3 linked regions of the Homo sapiens genome follow. The protein of the gene in region 2 interacts with the protein of the main gene of each other region in a pairwise test. Each region holds a gene or a part of one and is shown on either strand. Other genes may lie near its edges.

What was found. Proteins that work in one complex are often made in the same cells at the same time.
Region 1: the proteins of DOCK2 (region 2) and KRTAP9-4 interact in binary tests that used the Homo sapiens proteins (3 or more experiments, as listed by UniProt).
Region 3: the proteins of DOCK2 (region 2) and TENM4 interact in binary tests that used the Homo sapiens proteins (3 or more experiments, as listed by UniProt).

What each region holds. Positions count from the first base shown.
Region 1 is NC_000017.11:41,245,399-41,251,169, reverse strand, and holds KRTAP9-4 (keratin-associated protein 9-4), read right to left. Parts: upstream 1,484-5,771; 5' UTR 1,450-1,483; coding exon 985-1,449; 3' UTR 517-984; downstream 1-516. UniProt on the Homo sapiens protein: In the hair cortex, hair keratin intermediate filaments are embedded in an interfilamentous matrix, consisting of hair keratin-associated proteins (KRTAP), which are essential for the formation of a rigid and resistant hair shaft through their extensive disulfide bond cross-linking with abundant cysteine residues of hair keratins.
Region 2 is NC_000005.10:169,709,830-169,718,016, reverse strand, and holds part of DOCK2 (dedicator of cytokinesis protein 2), read right to left. Parts: intron 6,083-8,187; coding exon 6,010-6,082; intron 5,898-6,009; coding exon 5,794-5,897; intron 3,990-5,793; coding exon 3,806-3,989; intron 3,658-3,805; coding exon 3,560-3,657; intron 1,805-3,559; coding exon 1,715-1,804; intron 634-1,714; coding exon 533-633; intron 1-532. UniProt on the Homo sapiens protein: Involved in cytoskeletal rearrangements required for lymphocyte migration in response of chemokines. Activates RAC1 and RAC2, but not CDC42, by functioning as a guanine nucleotide exchange factor (GEF), which exchanges bound GDP for free GTP.
Region 3 is NC_000011.10:78,668,015-78,675,030, forward strand, and holds part of TENM4 (teneurin-4), read right to left. Parts: intron 4,316-7,016; coding exon 4,019-4,315; intron 2,538-4,018; coding exon 923-2,537; intron 1-922. UniProt on the Homo sapiens protein: Involved in neural development, regulating the establishment of proper connectivity within the nervous system. Plays a role in the establishment of the anterior-posterior axis during gastrulation.

The sequences.
Region 1 (5,771 bases), on a different chromosome or scaffold from region 2:
GAGTCCACAATAAATTCCCAAGCTTTTTTTGATGTAGATGAATTGAATGAGTGGCTGGTCAGAGGCTGAGACAAAAAGAGCTCCCTGCATTCAGGGCAGCCATTAAATGCAGTCCCTGCTGCCATATCACGCAGCTGTTTCTCACTGAGGTGTGGGAAATTGGGAATTTTTTGTAAACAAAAACGTTATCTGCAAATATAAGAGATTATTTGTCCTATTGTTAAAAAAACTCAAGTATATGACTTGCTAATACTTACTTCCAATGTCATTTCTACTATATTGAGAGTTAAATGTAAGTGTCCTTGGGCAGAAAGAGAGGACCTCAGCTTGGACAAGAGTCTGCCCTTTACTAGCTACATAACATCACACATTAAATTGTTCTCAGCTGAAAAAATGGAGGTAATAACACACGACCATCTGTTTTGAGAATCAAATTGGATAATACCTATGGTATGTGATATGTGTGTAAATCTCATATCAGGAATGCTTTCATATAAAACAAAACACCATATGAGATGAGGATGGTTCAGAGTTTATTCAGAAACATATAGCTAAGAATCTCTGCTGGTAGCAGAAACATAACCCAAAGTTATGAAAAGAAGAAAGAAGGATACAAGAACCATGAGGAGGATATTGAAAACAAAAATATGATTGCAAAGATTATTGATCAGTTGCAGAAACCTAAATTCCTTAGAAGCAGAGAATGAAGCTCTTGACTTTTGAGTCAAAGCTGAGACCATGACTCAAAATTGAGAACACACGAAGCTGGCACATGATCCACAAAGTGTAAGGAAAAAGAGAATCAGGATGAAGTATTCTGCCCTCCCTCAAGTAGATTCCCAAGATTTTAAACAGGTAGAGAATTCATAAAAATTTGGGTGAGAGCATGGTGGCTGTCAGCAGCAAATTAAATTAGTCCCCCAAAAGATAAGTCAGTTGAGCAGAAAGTTGTTGTGTGAGGATGGTGGTTCTCTTGGGACTTGATCAGCAGCAAAAAGGCTGACAGCAGCTGGACACACAGGTGGGCTGGAAGCAAGTGGTCTCACAGCAGGCTGGGCGGCAGCAGGGCTGGCAGCAGTTGGAGCCACAGCTCTGGTTTAGGCAACCAGGCAGGCAGACAGTTGTGGGGTAGTAGCAGGTTCTTCTGCAGTACACAGGTGCACAGGAGCTGCTCTGGTCACAGCTGGACCCACAGCAGGTGGGCTGGCAGCAGGGTGTGCTGCAGCAGGAAGGCTGGCAGCAGCTGGTCACACAGGTGGGCTGGCAGCAGGTGTTTTGACAGCAAGTTGGGCGGCAGCAAGGCTGGCAGCAGCTGGAAACACAGCAGGAGGGCTGGCAGCAGGGTGTGCTGCTGCAGGTGGTCACAGTGGTGGGCTTCCAGCAGGTGGTCCTGCAGCAGGTGGTCCTGCAGCATGTAGGCTGACAGCAAGGGGAGCAACAGTGGGTCATGGTGTCAGGGGTAGAGGGTGGGCTTCTGTTCAGAGGTGAGTTTCCCAGAATCTGATGACCCCTTGCAATCTGGACCTTTTATACACCTGGCCTCCAAAGTTTCCACCAATCAGCAGGACTTTTCCTTGTTTCCGTTTACATTGTTTTCCCAGTCCGTTTGTGATTCTCAAAGGGTAGTTGTTTCCTTAAGGTTAAACAGATTAAGGTTTAATCTGTTTCTTAATTGTGAATTACTCATAGACACTTTGTTTCAGATAAAAGGAAGGCAATCTCATCATCAGCATCATTCCTGTTCTGACCATCATCTGGTCATGTGATAGTTCCTGTTGATCTGGGAGGCTCAGGAAGTTCTCTCTGGCCAGCCTCATGTTTGGCTGTATGTAGACTGGGAAGTGTCTGTGGGGAGAAGCATGATGCTGATATATTTACAGTGACAAAATGAATCCATGCCTGGGCCCAAGACTAGTCACCCACCAAATTCTGACTCAAGACTAGCAGGCATCTCTCTGTGCAACCCACACCACCTGTCTTTCAGTTCTTTGAACATCACTTGGGAAGAGGGTGTTTGTCACAGTGTGTTCCATGTGGCAGAGCAGATCGAGAGCAGGTGGATGCAGATAAATCCACTGGGATTTAGACAGCATCAAGTAATCTATGCCCTGAGTGACCATTCATTCTGACTTGTCTGTGAGCGTGGCGATTCCAGAATGAGAATGTAGGACTCTCTATGGCATAAATGCTTGAGATTCAGGCCAACCAGCATGTGCTGTGGCTCTAGTCGCAACCCGGTTACTAGCACAGTAAGCAGCATGTCTTCTCTCTCTCTCTCTATTTCTTTTTAATGAAGGAATTAGATGAGTTGAGATGATGCCTGATTCATCATGGAGTTCTAACATGTTTAAAACATTTTCTAGGTATACCATTCATTTGAGAAGAATGCAAATTATTAATTTTCAACTTGATATAGTATTATATTGTAAATACATCTGTGTCCCCATTACATCTATGTTAGGAAATAGAAATTAATTCCATTCTCTCCCAATTATATGCTCTTACTCATTCCCAAAGACAGCTAATCACTCTATCAGTTGTAATCCTGTAGGTAATTTTTGGTTTTTTAAAGTTTTCATGTGAATAAAAAGTATAGTATTTGCTTCTCTATTTCTTTGGCATAAACAAAAGTAATCTTTATCGCCTAGTCATTTTGGACTCTTCATATAAGCAAAGCAGCAGACAGAGAAAGTAGTTACTATTTGGTGAGGGATAATTACCCTCAAGCCATATAGTGTAGCAGAATATATCTATAGCTCAGGAGATTTACTGAGTATATTAATTTACTAGCACTGCCCTGATGAATTACTGAAAAAAAGTGGCTTAAATTTATTTATCAAAGTTCTGAAGGCCTCTTTTCTGAAATTAAGGTGTTGGCAATGTTGTTTTCATCTGAAGACTGCGAGGGAAGTATCTGTTCCACGTCTCTCTCCCTGACGTGTCAAAGTCTATCATCTCCAAGTGTGTTTGACATAATTTTTCTATTATATCCATACTGTCTCTGAATTTCTCCCTTGTGAATAGACACAGTCATATTTAATCAGAGGCCTAATTGTTTCCAATATGACCTTGTCTTATCAGATAACACTTTAGATGATTCTATTTGAATATGAATTTTGAGGGACGCAAATGAACCCATAACACTGCAGAATCTCACAGTGTGTCCATGCCTAGTGATAACCACAAATGAGTAAAAACAACAATCACGGTGGACAATGGTATAGTAACCAGGGGCTCAGACCCTTCAGGAAGGATGCTCTGAGCTACTCTATCAGCAGTTATCTAGACCAACAAGAGTGCTGGCCAGGGGTGAAGGGAGAATAGAACTCTTGGTAATTAACGGAGTTTATGAAACTTAGGTGCACTGTATTATAGCAGAAGTAAGTGTAGATTATTTAATTGGCCTTCGTTTTATATCTCACTTCCTCTCCTTTCTTTTCCTTTCCTTCCTCTTTCTTCTTTCTTTCTTTCTTTCTTTTCTTTCTTTCTTTTCCTTCCTTCCTTCCTTTTTTCCTCCCTTCCTCCCTCCCTTCCCTTCCCTTCTCTCTCCCTTTCTCTCTCTTTCTTTCTTTCTCTTTCTTTCTTTCTTTTTATCTTTCTTTCTTTCTTTTTTCCTTCCTTCCTTCCTTCCCCTCCCTCAGTTCCTCCCCGCTCCCTCCTTTCCCTCCCTCCCTCCTTCCTGTCCTTCCTTCCTTCCTTCTTTCCTTCCTTCCTTCTCTCTGTCTTTCTGTTTTTCTTTCCTTCTTTTCTCTTTCCTTCTCCTCTCATCTTCTGTCCCTTCTCTTCCTCTGCTTCCTCTCTTCCTCTTCTTCCTTCTCCTAGAGGTTGTGGCTGCCCATCCTATTTAAGTAGCAAATATTTGACTTGAGTGGAGCTAATTGTAGATTGTAGACAAGTTTTCATGACTGCACCCATATATCTTGGATGTTACTGTGCTTGGATCAATTTCCATCTGTCAAAATCTGCATCTCTGTGCCTAAGGGCTCTTGTATTGCAGCTGTAGAAAGTCATGCCACCTGTGAATGCAACACAGAGAAAAACACTCAACCAATGATTCTGGAGAGCTGATTTATAAAGACTTTAGCTTCCTCATTCCTGAAGTAGGGTAATTCTAGCTGTGTGTTTTTCATCATTTCTGATAGTTTTCCCTTTAGTTTAAGCTTTAGTTGGTGACTGTGATACTGACTTAATAGTGTGCCTTCTTCTGTATCACTTCCCCAGTCCCTACCGGTGTGATCTGCACTTCTCAGTAAACTAGTTTCCCTGGAATATTTTCTTCAAAGTCTCTTCTGGGAGAAACTAATCTATGACAATACGTTAACTCTCTCAGCCTCAAATTTCTCATCTCTACAAGGGGAACATTAATACCTATTTTGAAAGTTTGTTAAATAGTTAATAATAATGTACACAAAGCATTTATCCAGTACCCATCATAGAGCAGGCAACACAGAATTAGTGTTTTTTGTTCAGAAAATTCCCAAGTTTTATGTTGAAGATAAGAATATTTTTGTAATAATTAAATAGATCAACTAAATACGTTTTTTTCTAGCTGTATTGAGGTATAATTGACAAACAAAAATTGTGTACATTTCAGGTATAGAAGGTGATGCTCTGATATATATATTGATTGTGAATAACATATTTATTAGGTCACTTAGTTACCATTTCCTTTTTATTTTTCTGGTGTGAACATTTAAGATCTACCTTCTCAGTAAATTTCAGGTATATGATAAAGTGTTTTTAACTATAGTCATATTACTGTACATTAGACCTACTGAACTTATTCATCTTTCATAACTGATGCTAGTCAAAGAGAATGTCCTAGTTTTCATCTCCTTTACTTCATCCCTGAACGATGATGACAGTAAGTGGCTGTTGTCTCTTAGCCAAGTCTTCAGAGCATTCTAGATTCACAGTCTCAGAAGTGGCATCTGTCATGGAAATCTACATTGTTAGCTCATCAGAGGTATTTCTACCACTCCCCTGCTTGTAGGAGGCCCCAAGAAGGTGACCTAGGTCCCCAATCTTTGTATTTCTCACAGATCCAGTATCAATCAACCTTCCGTGGGTGAATGCTTAGCTTGAATCAGTTCAGGACCCGAAGCAAAAACCTCTGTCTATCATGACTTCTGTTTCTTTTTTTTTTCTTTCTTTTTTTTTTTTTTTTACTTTAAGTTCTAGGGTACATGTGCACAATGTGCAGGTTTGTTACATATGTATACGTGCACCATAATGGTGTGCTGCACCCATTAACTCGTTATTTACATTAGATATATCTCCTAATGCTATCCCTCCCCACTCCCCTCACCCCATAATAGGCCCCGGTGTGTGATGTTCCCCTTCCTGCGTCCAACGGTTCTCATTGTTCAATTGCCACCTATGACTGAGAATGTGTGGTGTTTGGTTTTTTGTCCTTGCGATAGTTTGCTGAGAATGATGGTTTCCAGCTTCATCCATGTCCCTACAAAGGACATGAACTCATCCTTTTTTATGGCTGCATAGTATTCTGTGGTGTATATGTGTCACATTTTCTTAATCCCATCTATCATTGATGGACATTTGGGTTGGTTCCAAGTCTTTGCTATTGTGAATAGTGCTGCAATAAACATACGTGTGCATGTGTCTTTATAGCAGCATGATTTATAATCCTTTGGGTATATACCCAGTAATGGGATGGCTGGGTCAAATGGTATTTCTAGTTGTAGATCCTTGAGGAATCACCACACCGTCTTCCACAATGGTTAAACTAGTTTACAGTCCCACCAACAGTG
Region 2 (8,187 bases):
GATCTCTGCACAATGCAATCTCCACCTCCAGGGTTCAAGTGATTCTCCTGCCTCAGCCTCCCGAGTAGCTGGGATTACAGGCTCCCACCACCATGCTCAGCTAATTTTTGTATTTTTAGTAGAGACAGGGTTTCACCATGTTGGCCAGGCTGGTCTCCAACTCCTGACCTCAGGTGATCCACCTATCTCAGCCTCCCAAAGTCCTGGGATTACAGGCGTGAGCCACCACACCTGGTCTTCTCTGTAGCCTTTAAGTCCTGGTGTCCACTCAAGAAATGAGAGCACGCTAGCTGAATGGATGAATGAGCACTTCCAGGTACCACTGCAACCATAAGGCATTCATCCAAACCTATGGGTATTCCACATTTTTAATGATATCCAAATAACCCAAGCATAGGTTAGATTTTGTTAGAGAATGGAGAGCTCACACAGATGAGTCACAAAAGAAAATTACTCAAGTTCCTGTGCCCTAGGCATCCTGGCAGGGCAAGAGGGTGGTAGAGAAGAAGTTCCCATGTGCACAATTACTTACTTGTAAGCCAAGGTCGCACTGAAATGCTGTTGGATGTAAGCCTCCAGAACGGTGTTGAAATGCTGAAATTTCCGGTCTGCAATGAGTCCTATTATGTAAATCTGAGGAAGATGCAAGGCAGCAGTATTTTCAGGGCAAACCCAGGGCAGGAAGCCATCTTTACCTGGCATAATTCAACCCCCATTAAAATCCTTTGCCCAGGAATTAGCTCACTAATACATAATGAGTTCTCTTTATTAAGGTAGCATCTTCCCAAAGAAAATGTTTCATGAAGTGTGCTGTGGGGTGTTATAAGATGAAAAGGATTTCATGGTCAAATAGGTTTTGAGAAATGTCAGGTTATCATTATTAGACTTTCTTATTGCAAAACTTTTTAGAATCTTTAATATACTTATGTACATTGTGAATCTCTAAAAGGGTCATGCAACATTCAACACTTCCCTAAATTAATTAATCAAAGTATATATTTGTCATGAAACATCTTTTCTGAGAGCTAGCATTCTAGGGTACTCTCTGGGGAAGCACTTGATTAAGCCACAGTTGTCTCTCAGTAACCTCTTTAAAAATGCAAATATCCATGACACAAGGGGTTAACACTTAAAAACTTTGTTGGGCACTGATTCCCTAATGCAGATGTTTCTTGTGTTTATTTTGACATAACACTGAGAAAATCTGAGTCGAGATAGGGAGAGGACAAAAAGACCATAGGGGAGGACTAAAAGAAGGAAGATCTGGATGGTACAGCATCATGAAAAGTTCTGGGTGGGTAGGAGAAATGTAATGATTAGTGAGTTGGAGGAAATGGGGAGAAGAAGGTGAAAGGAAAGCTAAGAAACATTTTTGGTGCTTTACAACCTAGCCAGGGACTAGCTCCCAACATTCATAGAAAGCAGAAGCAATCATTCACAATATCCAGCCTCATGTACCTTCAGCCAGTGTCAATCTGACATCAGCATTTAAAATTCCCCTTTCACCCACAATGCCTCATGCTTTCAAATGAACTGGCAAGAAGCAAAAGGAAATAGCAGCTCATTATTGGTCTTGTTGCCAAACATTACAACACCTCCAAAGAATTCATGAAAAAGGCCATGAGGGCCATGAGGGCCATGAGTTCTCAGTATTTTCACAGTAAGACATACATTAATGCCTGTTGTCACTAGACACTTTTCCCCTCTCTCTTACCAAGGCATCAAAGACGAGGATGTCATATTCATCACTTTGAGAATGCTCCATCATGATGTTGAAGAGGGCATCCAGAGTATCCTGGAGAAACTGGAAGAAATAACAAAGGTTGCACTACTTCAGAAACAAGACAAAGTACAGGTGAACCAGCAATCCCACTCCTAACTATCTATAAGAGAATGAGAGCACACATCCACCACATGTCATGCTCAAAACGTCTAGAGTAGTTTTACTCACGAGAGCCAGAAGTTGGAGGAACCCAACTGCCCATCAACAGCAGAATGGATGCACAGATGGTGGCATGTTCACACTAGAGAATACTACACAGCTGGACTAAAGTGCAAACTACTTCCACAGGCAGAAATGAGGATGATTCTCACAAGCATTATATGCAGTAAAATACATCAGGCACAGAAAGTACACTCTTCACTATTCCATTCTTATGAAATTTGAGAGTAGGCAAAAACCCATCTACAATGATGGTTGTCAGGACAGTGATTACCCCGGGGGACTACTGGCTGAGAAGGGGTATGAGGGAATCTACTATAATGCTAAAAGTGGTCTGTATCCTCTTCTGGGTGGTGAGTACACATGGTGTTTACGTGTGTAAAAATCCATTATGCTATACTCTTAAGATAACTGCTCTGTATCTATTTCATCATATGTATATCATATTTAAATAACAAACTTTTTTAAAAAAAAAAAAAGAAAAAAGAATGCAAGAGGAAGACAACAAAAGCCTCATCTCTTCCATGACTTCTCCAAGCTACCAAAAGGCTATAGACTTTATTAAAGTGGTGTCTTGGGGAGTTACTCTGCCATTGCTGAACGAGGTAGATGGGTCAGTGGTATACATTTACGGCATCTGGAAATTCTGCCACTGCTTCTCCAGGTAGAGGCAATTAAATAAAACTTGATTTTCCTCCCTCCTAAGGGATGGGTCAATATTTCCTATAATCCCTCAAAACACAGAGCTACCATATAAAGATGTTTAATCTCAGAATTTCTAGCTGTATCAAGGAAACAAGATCTCCAGGACCATTGGGAAACACTTGTCCCAATTCATAAGGCTGGAGAGAAGGGTTGCTTTAATTAGATTTGCACTTCAGACGCTTTCTATTCTCCACTACCATGTGGATGCAATAATACATCTGACATTTGCATTGTTTTCTGCTTATTTCACTTAAAATGTAAGCCCTGATGTCTTTCCCTTTCCCGTCTTTAATACATAATGCTCTCCAAGCAGCAGAAACCAAGAATACTTTTTATTTCTAACAATGATCTGTGGGTAGTACTAACAGATCATACTACTATATATATATGTATATATACATATGCACACATATATATGCTCACACACATACATACATATATATGCATATACATATATATCAACATATGACAACAAAAATAATAATTACCATTTATTGAACTTTGTTTTATATGCTTTGGTTTAATTGTTGTGTACTATGTGTAAGAGACTGTTGAGTAAGTTTTAAATATTATCACCTTGAATGCTCATAACAGCCCTGAGAACTATGTCACTTTTATATTATCACATAAAGTTGGCATGTGGGAGAGCTGGGATTTACACCCAGGCTCATCTATTTCCAGAGATTGAGCATAACCATTGTTTTCTGGCACCCAACATTCAGTGCCATTGAACCAAGTCACTCCCCTGGATTTCCCAATAAAGATTCCTCAAGGCAACTCGGGAGAGTGTATCCTACTGTTGGAAGAAAAGTTTCCCCATGTCCTTCAATACCTTGTTTTTCCCCTGAAGCCACCCACATGGAGAGTTCTGTCACTAGTGTAAGAATACAATCAAAATGAAGCCCCACTGACCTTCACCACTTCCTCTCCATCCACAATCTTCAACTTTTCTAAATTCTCCTGTAGCAGTTGAGGCTTCATACGCCACTTCAGCAAACCCAGCAAGCCCACTAAAATAGAGTCCAGACATTCAGAAGTATCATTACTGGCCTAACTGTCCATATCAGGACCTCCTTGGGTCTGCAAGCACATACACACATGTACACACACACGGACACACACACTCCCCACAGACACAACTCTTGATGACCCGATTACCATTCTGAGTGAGCTTTGTGGAGCACACCAGGGTGGAAATGGAGAACACATCCCGGGAGCTGACAGAAAGCCCCCCAACACTGCTGGAGCTCCTGCTCAGCGTGGCCCCCTTGTTTTCCACATGGTGTCGATAAGAAGGAAGGGTCAGGTATGCGCTGGCATCCTCCATCTTCTTGCTGTCCCCCTGGAAACAACACTTGGTTACTGCCCCAAGCCAAGGCTCCATGCCCAATGCCACACAGAGCCTGCAGCAGACAAATTAGACACTGTGAAGTGGGGAGAGTCATAAAGAGTGAAGAAAATCATCAGAGAAGCAATAGACATTGGCTGGTGAGGCAGGACTGTTTTTCCACAATACAGGTAAGAATTCAAAGACACATTAATAGAAAGGGGGTTGATCCACCAGGTGAAAGCTCTGTGAACCTCATTAATGGCAAAATAAAAACGGAATTGAAAATTCCCAGACAGTACATTTTAATTCATCCTTTTTTTGAGACCATAATATCTGCTCACCAGCAAAATAAGGACTCTAGCTTAAAGAGGAATTTAATGGCAAAGGCACTAAGTAAGAGTGTGCTGGGATCTGGACCCTGTTTTGCCATTCACAGGTCTATGCTATCTTGAATACACTATTTTGCCTCTTTGTGTCTCATTTTTTTTTTCATTAGTAAACTGAAGACAATCATCATCCCTACTTCCTAGAATACCTGAGCAGATAATATGGAATAATGCATATAGAATACATAGCAGAGTGATACACACATAAATGAGTGGCATGTTAAAATGAATGACTAGAGGTAGGCATTACAGAAGATAACATTTATCTTACTCCGCACCAGGAGTGAAACCAAGTGTTTTATATGTCTTGGTTCATTTCATTTAAGCCTCATAACAAACATATGAAGCAGACACTGTTATTATCCTCAGTCAAGGAAACTGGGACCTAATGGGGGTAAGTAAAAGAAAATTGACTGCAACTAGGCCTCTGACCCCAAGGAGTTCACATTCTGTCAGGGAAGAAGGGCTTTCAAGCCAAGAATTCTATGTGTGATAAATGAGAAAACAGAGGCTGTACAGAAGAAAGGGGGTTTTCTGGAAAAGTCAGAGAGACTCAGAGAAGAGTACAAGAGTACTATGAGATGAAGCCTTGACGAGGCTGTGTTTGCCATGCATCCCACAGGCAAAAGGGCAATTTCAGCCTACAAGGCTAAGAAAGCCAAGGGCAAGGGTGTGATCCATGTGCTGGCTACTCAACCTTGCTCCACCTCACAGCCATACACTTGCCTCCAGCCAGGTGCTAGTAGATGCATTCTGTTGTCATAAGAGGACATGTGGAAAAGCAGCAGGTAAAAACCAGACAAATGCTCCTCCATGTCTCAAAAACAGTCCAAGTCTCATAATGTAAAAATAAAAATAGTGGACATCTGCACTCCCTTTATAGTTTAGATGGCCATTTTTCATGGGTCATCCTAGTGGGTTGTCATAAATATTGCCACAACTGCTTAAGAAAAAAGAAACTGAGACTCAGGAAAATATGTGAGATGAGTCCAGGCTTAGTCAGCAGCAGGATCAGGACTGCAGGTTTTAATATTTTCCCATTAGCTACAATGCAGCATCTCTCAAATGTTTATTGTACATCCTCTACACATGCCACAGAGGTCCCTACAGAGTCAAGAGTATATAACAGTCATTAACAATAACCTTTCTGTAAATAACAATAACCTTTTCCATGTATTGAGTTCTTCCATGTACTCATCATTGCTATGTTTACATCCACTGTCTCATAATTTTCACAAATATTCACTGAGGGCACAAAGATGAGGAAACAGAGGCCCAGAGAAGTCAAGAGTTTATAAGAGGCCACAAAGTTGGTAAACTCTGGTGTGTGTGATTCTGGGGTCCCTGCTGTTGACCACTAAGCAATTTTGCCATCACCCCCTTTCTTCCTGCACTCCCCTCAGTGCAGAGCTCCTTCCAACTCATGGTACCTTGAGGACAACTAAGTCATGGAATCCATCGTGTAGAGTAGTCCCATCTTCTTTCATCAGCTTCACATAGGACATGGCAAAGTTCTTTTCTCCTTTATCTTTAGCTGGAAATAGCATTGTGGGGTCAGGAAAGAAAATGATACATGGGCCACCCAGCTCTTCCATTCTTCTCCCCTTAGGGGGAGGTGCAGAGATGCCATTCAGTATGGTACTCACATTCCAGAGATGACCGATGTCGAAACATGAATCGCAGATGGATCCTCTGCATGTCTTCAATAGGGACAGCCACCTCAGCAGACAGAAACAGAGCTCAGAACACAATGAGTTAAAGGGCCCTCCCCACTGCACCCCCCTACACACTTCCACAGCAGCCTGACCATTTAACTGAGAGAGCTGCCTGCTGATTTACAACCCATCCATTGAGGCTGATGAACTGTAAATAAATTACAGAAGAACTAGCTATGAAGAGAAAATAAAGTACCAAATGTAATCCATTTGGCAAATTGCATTCCCAGCCAATGAAAAGAGGTCTGTAAATTATAGTGAGGAAAAATGAGTCTCCCCAAATTGATATAAAAGTCACATAACTTTAGCACAGGATTTGATGCACTGCAAACTGCACAATGCACATTTTCCTTACACACTCCAGGAGTTCTGGCAATTGCAGCAGGGCTTAGCAAATTAACAATGGTTGTTAGGGGGTTTGCTTGAGGAATCTCATTTATGCAAATTAATAAAAATGCTTTAATCCAATAATATTTGGAAAAATCCTAGGGCTCATCTCACCCTTGATCAGACACATGTCCAGATGTTTTTGATTCCAAGGACACTGAGCTAAGACAACAACCCACTGGTCACCCAGGCATCCCTGTCCAGTGAATGACCCACTGGTACCACTGATTGTGATGCTTTCAGCCTGGCTCTGTGCTGCCCACCTCCCAAAGTCTCACAGCTCCTCTGCAATCTGAGATTCAGGCCAATGCGGAGAAGGTTAGCTACCTGAGAGAAGGACACTGATTTTAAAAAGGAATACATTTGTACTGTACAGATGCCTATTAAACGCCAAAACAAATGTATACTTGGGGGCACTTTCTGTTGCAGAAAATGAGGCTTGAGCCTGAGGAGGTCCACCATCCTGTCTATGTTTCAGGCAGAGCAAAGGAACTGAGGGTCTCATGGGTAACTGCAGCCAATTCATTCTTTCCCTGAGTGTTGAATGTTCACTAGAAGCTACAATCATGTGGGGTGCTGGCCATGCTGATACAAGGCAGAGTCCTCACACTCAAAGAGCTCATTGTTCCGTGTTACACATGGGGCAATGTGTAACAGCCCTGTGACAAGGGCTAGCAAGGAGATACAACTGAGGTGCAAGAGAGAACAGAGAAGGGAAACCTGACCTGGTACATTAACTTTCTGACCACAGAGTTGACCGGGTCATCAATTCGAAGGCATTGGGTATGGGGAGACACACTGAGCAAAGTAATAATATGTGTAATAAGTGGAGAACCGCTGGGGTTTGAATAGCTCTCACTGAAAAGGAAGTCAAGTGTGCATCTTGTGTTTGGAGTCAGAGCCCGGGGGGAATAAAGAATGCTGCTAATGATAAGGCAGAGATATCTGAAGCTATGATCAAGCTGCAGTGTTCACTGAATTAATTCCAAATCCTTATTCCAATGCAGGTTATTCCTTTCTGCTTAGTGTGACGATCTGGTAATGTAATATTTGTAGTTAATGTCACTTCTGTCAAGGAATTATTCCAAAAGGGCATCTTTCAGGCATTATACAGCCTGTGATAGGCTCACATTGGCTTGCAAGCTCTGTCACTCCTCATTGCTGAGTAGAATGGTGCAGCTTGATGAACTGGGCACCACCCACAAGAGGACTATTTGACAATTCCACTTTGGTTACATCCTGCACCAAGGAAGGGTGATCAAGGGAACCAGGGTGCTCACCCACCTGGCCTCCATTTCCACTGGCTGACAATACCACCAGACACATGCTAGGGGGTCATTTCAGATTCAGAGAGGTGCCTCCAAGGACCCTAAGCTCTTACAGATGGTGACTTCTGCTATAAACTAGAGCTAAAGAAGTTTTTCTGTCACTCTATGTCCCTCCAGTATGTTCATGACTGGCCTCAGAATTGAGTTAGATATTTCATGAAGAGAAACATAATATATTCTCATATGTTGTTCACAATCACATTGATCCATCAAGCCTCCCACCTGCTTTGGCTAAAACAAAGAATTTCTAAAATATGTTCAACAGAATCCTAGCCCCAGGATATGACACTAGGAAAAAGGAAAATGCTCGGTAGTCAACGAGTTTTGGGACGTGCTCTGCATTCTTATTTCCTTTTGCAGGTCTGCAGAGCACATTTACATCTCAAGGGCTCTA
Region 3 (7,016 bases), on a different chromosome or scaffold from region 2:
AAGTTGGTTTCATGGTAATGGAAGGCAGAGCTCACTTTTCAAGTTAGGGGGTAAAGGAAAGGGAACCAACACGAGCCAGGCACTGCGCTAAGTACCTCATGAAATGTATTTCACTTCACCCTTGCAACCACCCTACCAGGTAGGTGTTAGTTTCTATTGTTGCATGTGTTCCTTATTCTTTTTTTTCCCTCTTTTCCTGCCCTCTTTGGATTATTTTCTTGTCTTCCATTTTATCTCCACTGTTGACTTATTAGCTAGGACTCTTTTTTTAGTTTTTATCTTTTTAGTGGTTTCTCTAGGGTTTATAATACACATATTTAATTATAGGTAGATGTTCTAACTTCAATTTACGTATCAGGAAACTGGAATTCAGGGCAGTTAAATAATTTTTGTAACATGTCATGGCTTCAAACTGGTGGATCCTTCACTCCATTCTTACATTATCCCAAATTGAGAACTAATTTTTTTTTAAAGCCATACCTTAACCCAATCAAGGACTCATTAGCAGTTTGATTTGTGTGTCAGAAACTCCTAAAGTGCAATCCATGGGATGTATCCCATGAGATATTAGGATTTCATGGTGAAAAAAGGGCTTTTACGGTCAAATAAGTTTGAGAAATAGTGGGCAAATATATTAAATAGTTCACTTTTATAGCACTTCCCAGAGCTTATCATACACTGAAATGTACTATGAAAATGTAATAATGGTGGTGACCCTGACAAATTTATTTGATGCTGGAACCATTTTTCCAGAGTATTTTCTGAACTAGTGTTTCTTCAAACGGACTTTGGAAAATGCTGCTCTAAGAGAAAGTCAGTGTTTCCTGTCACCTTATGCCAGCTTTCTCAAAGAAGACTAAGTATTGTTAGGTAGTAAGAGCACTTTATGGGGTCCTGCCCCTGAGTGAGCCGTGGTCCTTACCTGTCATGAAGCACTTGATGTCCTGGGAGTTGCTGATGGGGTTGTTGTTTTTGAACATATAGAGATTAAAAGGCATGACGTTGCTGCTACTAAGGTGCTTCCACAGCTCGTGGTCTGGGCTAGTCCAGCGTCCGGCCAGCACATCATAATCTCGCCGGCCCATGTGGACAAGCTTGGTGAGTGGATCATAGAGGCCACCATGGTAGCCTATGATGATCTGAAAGTTGGGGTTGGTATCCATGTAGATCTCCCCATAGGCTGTGTACAGGATTTGCTTGATCATCAAACCTGTTCCACTAAAGACAGCAAGAGGGGTCCCGATGTTGTCACAAGCTATGTAAAACTCATCACCACTGCTCAGCTCCATGGCAAAGAGGTGTCCTTGCAAGTCGTAGTAGAGGGAGGTGATCTCAGAGCTGGAGTGGTTGTACAGGTGGGTGACCTTGGTGGGGTTGGTCAGGTCTGCATAGAAGAACTGCAGGTGGTGGCTGTGGCTGCTCTTGCTGGACACGCGCCGCCCCAGGCCATCGTAGCGGTACCTGACACTCCAGCTGCCAGCCCGGTTGTAGGCCTTGATGAGCAGGCCAGCTGAGTTGTACTCAAAGATATCACCGCCCCGCTGCCTCAGGAAGCCATCCTCATCCATCTTGTATTGCACGTCACCCAGCCGAGTGATGCGGTCGCGGATGTCATACCGTAGTGGTGTGAGCCGTGCACTGTTCCCAGGGCTCAGTAAGTGCAGGTTCCCATTGAGGTCGTAGCTGTAGCGCCAGAGTGGCTTGTCATTGATGGAGACTGTCTGCAGCTGGCCGTCAGCATCATACTCATAGGAGTAGCGAGTGGTATTGGCGTAGGGTCCTACCTTCAGCTCCTTCTTCACTACTCGCCCCATGTTATCATACTGGACGGTCATCCAGTACATGAGCGAGCGGAAGATCTCATACTGCACTTCCTTCATCCTGCCATATGCATCAAAATGCTTGGTGTGGGTCATGACAGCTGTGGTGATGATCTGGTTAATGTCATAGTAAATGACACCAAACTTCCCAAACTGCTCTGTCTTGCCTGACACATCATCATAGCGATAGAGATCAATGGGCAGTGGGGTCTCGTTGATCACAGCCTGCATGCTGGTCACCCGGAAGCTGTTGTCATAGTTGTAGTCAAAACGGGCGTTGACCATGCCTTCCTCAGTGAAGCGGAAGATCTGTCGGTCAATCAGGGGCCCAATCTGACGGTAGCGGATGGTGCAGGTGAAGCCCTCATTCTGTAGGTTGATGGTCTTCAGCATGCCTGCCGTCTCGTCATAGGTGAAACTGACCTTGGTGGTGTCATAGAGCGTCTCTGCCAGCTTTGACAGTTTGCCATACTTGTATATCACCCTGCGGCCAGTGCCCAGGTAGAAGGTGTGAAGGAGGTGCCCATCCTCAGTGAAGTCCTGTATGACTGAGGCATTGCCCTCAGGGGGCTGATAGATGTTTCTGTAGTAGCCCACTGAGCGGATGGTCTCTAGTGTCTGCCGCGCCACGTTGGGCATCGTCACAGAAGAGAGGCGGTCATTCTTGTCGAACTCAAAGATATACTGCCTCTGGCTGTGTAGTAGCAGCACCATGGACTGGAGGGAGAGGAAAACCAAGAGATGAGAGGAGGGTGGTGAGGAGAAAGGGTAGGTCTACATACCCGAGACTTAAAGGGACGGAATGAATGTCCAAGGAGAATCCTGAGTTTCCATGGTTCTCTTGAGTTATGCTCCAACCAGAGCTCTCCAACAGGAGTGTCACGGGATACTGCAAATAGGTTACAGATGTGCCAAGATGAGGCTTTCTCTCAGCCTCATCTTAGCACAGCTTTAACCTTAGCACACCTGTAACCTACCTGGGGCCTAGGCCTCCAGGTACTCAGGCCATTTGCTGTCCTATGGTGAGCAGCCTCGTGGGTTTGCCCCTTTGTGCAGGACAGACCTGGTTACTTTTGTGCGTGGTGGGGTGTGAGAACGGCCAAGAAGCTTTGGCCTGAAGTATGTACAGCAGTCTGGCTTCCTTGCCCCAGACTTCTCAAACCAATCTTCCTATTCAGGCAAGAGTGAGCTCCTCCAAACACAGTCTCACAATTTCTTTTACCTGCTAAACAGTTTCCGCTGACTCCCTGTGGCTTACAGCACGAAGACCATATTTGAGAAGGGCATTTAAGGCTTTGCACAATGACAGGTCATAAGCCTACTCTGGGATAGGGCAGACTGTGATGGGAATGGGAGAACCTGGTTTCTAACAATAGTCTCCTTGTGTGGCCCTGGGAAAGTTCTTCCCCTCTCTGGGTTTGGGTTTTCAGTATGTTGGATGACCTCCAAGGTCTCTCTCTCTCTTAGTACTAGCGCAAAATGTCACTTTTGGGGGTACTCACCCAGTGGGTAGAGGAGACCCACCTCAGAGCAAGCACAGCCTATGCCCTGGACAGGTCACCAGGGTCAGGAAACAAAGCAGGGATCTGGATACTTGAAATGGGGCATGCAGTGCACTTGTTCTCAGGAAAAGATCAGCAGATAAAAGGCCTAGAGGCTTTATGCTGCAAAGCTACCATTTTTTCCTATTTGAGACCAACTTTTGATTTTAGGTCATTTCTGATTCTTACCCCTGGGATGACATGAGTTCTGATGCTAGAGCAGAATAGATTTACTAAGGCCATGCCCAGCACTTGAAGCTCAGGAGTAAGTGCCTCCTGCCTATGTACTGATGCCTAGGCTTCTGCCTGGTTCTCCACAACTGGATTGTACCACATGCCCTAGACCTGGGAGCAGACCCTTGGCCTGGGTCTGAACCCCGAGTCCTGCTCTGCAAATCCAGTGAGTATTTGGGCCTCTACTCTATCAGGCAGGTCTTTCATGTTCTCCTGCCCTAGGACCACCACCTGCCATGCTATCTCCCTGATCCATCCTGATGCCTCTTGGGACCCCATGCCCTCTGTGGCAGACTTTCCTGAACATTTCCTTTTGGTGACATGGGTCAGATACAGCCCACTGAGGCCACCAGGCTGGGCTTGGCCGTGAATGATTGGCCTTCTGTATGGCAAGGCCAGTGATGCAGGGAGACAGACACCTGCCTTCTCTAAGTATGTGTAGCTCCATGTCTTCCCATCAGCGAAGATCCTGGATGTGATGCGGCCCGCCTGGTCGTATTCCATTCTTTCAGACATGATGCCCCTCTGGATGCCAGCAATGTAACCCCCAGGGGAGTATGTCACGTTGACACCATTCAGCCTGCTGCTGGGTGACCAGAGGCTGGGCCGCCCCGCCTGGTCGTACAGAATCCGAAGGGTGAACTTGCGGTGGTCATCATAGATCTTCTCTGTGCGTGTTACGCGATCAAAGTCCAGAGATAGGAGATTTCGGTTGTGAACCTGGAGAAAGGGTTGGAAGGAAAGAGAAAATTAATCTGGACCATGAGAACTTTGGTCTGATGGGCCACGTTGCTCTCAGCTCTGCTGGGAAGCTCTTGAGTAGAGGAGGGAGCACAGTCCTGCGCAGCAACAGACATGGGTTTGAATCCTGGCTCTGTCATTTGTCAGCTCTGTGAAGTTTCCTCACCTGTAAAATGGGGACAATAATGCCAATTGCACAGGGTTGTTGTGAGGATGAAGATGATCCCTATGTTGAGAAATCAGTAGCTGTGACCAAAGAGGATCTGCATGTTTTCTAATGTGATTCTTCTAATGAGGACACGTTTTAAAAGGCAGATCCTTCTTGACTCCCTGCTGAAAGGAGACCCACCAAGTGAGCCCAGAAAATAAACTGACCCATCTCTTCCACACCAGACACTGCGGAGACCAAAGCTCAGGGAGGTGAAGGGATTTACCCTGGATCTCGTGGCTGGTGAGTGACGGAGTCTGGACTTGACTCTCACACATACAACGTGCCCCCAAACACTCAGTGGCCCTCTGAGCAATTCGTGGCCTTCTGGGGGCTCTGAACTTCCCAGCCCCTGTCGGGTGTCTCCTGCTTGCCACTACAATCAGGGCTTCTTGATTGCCACAGTCAGTACCCAAGACATATTCTTCCCAGAGGTGCTGGGAGGCAGTGAGTGTTTGTCACTGGGATGGCTTTTCTGCCTGTGGGCCGAATGGGGACACAGTCCTGGCTTTGAGGCACTTTGCTCCTGCCTTCAGGATCGGGAGTGCCTTGTATAAACTCCACCTGGACTGCTAGGCCAGCACACAGTTCAATTTCCTTTCAGAGTCAGAAAGACAGGGCTCCTACAGACGTAGTGGTAGGTTAGGGTTTTTATATTTTAATAAAGAAATATACTTCAGGGGCCTGTTTCTGTATTTGGATCTGCCCTGTAGGCATTGGTGGCCCCTGAAATATTGCCAGGTATTCTGGAACTAAAATACTGGTTTCCGCTAATTGGTGTCTGGCCTTATGGGACATTTGGGCACATTTTCTGTCTCTTCCACTAGTCATTGCTTAAGGTTGACAAGTAATACAGAAGACCCAAGAGGAAAGCAGATAATTAGGTCACGTGATGCAAAATGGCATGTGTGGACCGAGGCAATGAAAGGCCCTCTGGATCCCTGTGTGGTTAAAAAAAAATGGGTGCAGGTCTAGGAATGAAGGCCAGGATTCTAGCTGCAACTTTGTGACCAACTTTTCTATCAACCTTGGGCAAGTGCCTTCCCCTATCCGAGTCTCAGTTTCTTACTCTGTATAACAAGAGTTGTTGTGAAGGTTGAAGAAACTTAGTAAATCAGTGGAGTGCTAGGCACATAGAAGGTACTGAATAGATGGTTGGAATTATTTCCATTAAATGACAGCAAACGATCGTGGTCATATCCCAGGAAGGAGAGATGTGTGTGTTTCCTCCTTCTCCCACACAAATTCTAAGGCCTTGAAAATAACGATTTATAATGACGATGCTGACTTTAGCTGTGAATGACCTGGTTATAATAAGGTTACCTTCTCTGGGGTAATCAAACACAATTGCAGATGCAAAAACAGTGTGGCAGATGATTCCCATGAAAAATCAGAGGCATTGGAGGCTGAAGCTGTGTTATTTGCAGACAGGGCACAGGAAGATACAGGGGCTGTGCCACCAACAATGACAGAGGCCTTTTTAAAGTATCTTTTGGAAGGTCCCGCTGTGACTCCCCTCAGGGTGGTGCCACCCAGCCAGCTGTCCCCCTTTCTCCCTGGAGGATCTCTAGTGAAGGGGAGCTGTACCTTTTTGGCAAAATTAATAAAATTAAACAGCTCACTGGGGAGCCGCCTAATGCGTCCTGTGCTCGGCAGTGGCGGCAATGAGATTATTTCACCTCTTTATTAAAAAAGTTCCCAGTTGTATAAAAAATGAACTCCATTATGGGGAGGCACACCCGGCTAACATTCTAATTCCACCTGCCACCACTGTGGGTGGCCATTTATTTGGGAGGACATGTAGACGTGGCCACCCGTCCCAATCTCAGGTTGGGAGAGGGACCAATTAAAGCCTGGGAAACTTTTGGTCCAGTTCACACAGCAGAGAGGAAATCCTAATCATGCTAATCGCTGCCATTTATTGAGCACCTGGAGTCTACCTGTGCTGGGCTAGGTGCGTTGATTGTATCATCTTGTTTCTGCAGAGGCACCTGAGGCTCAGAGGAGCTGCTCAAGGCTCCACATGGCACAGGCAGGAATCAAACCCAGGTCAAACTTCCCATTGAGGACACTGCCTCAGAGGCGCATGCAGGAGTCTGCGAATTCAGACGGGGGAGCTCAGTGAGGCCACAGAGAACAAAGACAGCTAGGCCTTCCTCGGGGAGCTAGTGCAAGGCTGTTTCCCACAGTAGATAGTCACTAGAGCTCTTGGCTGTTGAGGGAACAAACGAAGCCTGGTTTTCTGGGTTCCAGTTGTGTGATATTGGATAAGTCACTTACTGTTTCTGTAGCTGCTGTGGGCCTATTTTCTAGTTTTTTTTTTTTGAGACAGAGTCTTACTCTGTCGCCCAGGCTGGAGTGCAGCGGCGCGATCTCGGCTCATTGCAACCTCTGCCTCCCAGGTTCAAGCAATTATCCTGCCTCAGCCTCCTGAGTAGCTAGGATTACTGGTGTCCCCCATCATACCCAGCT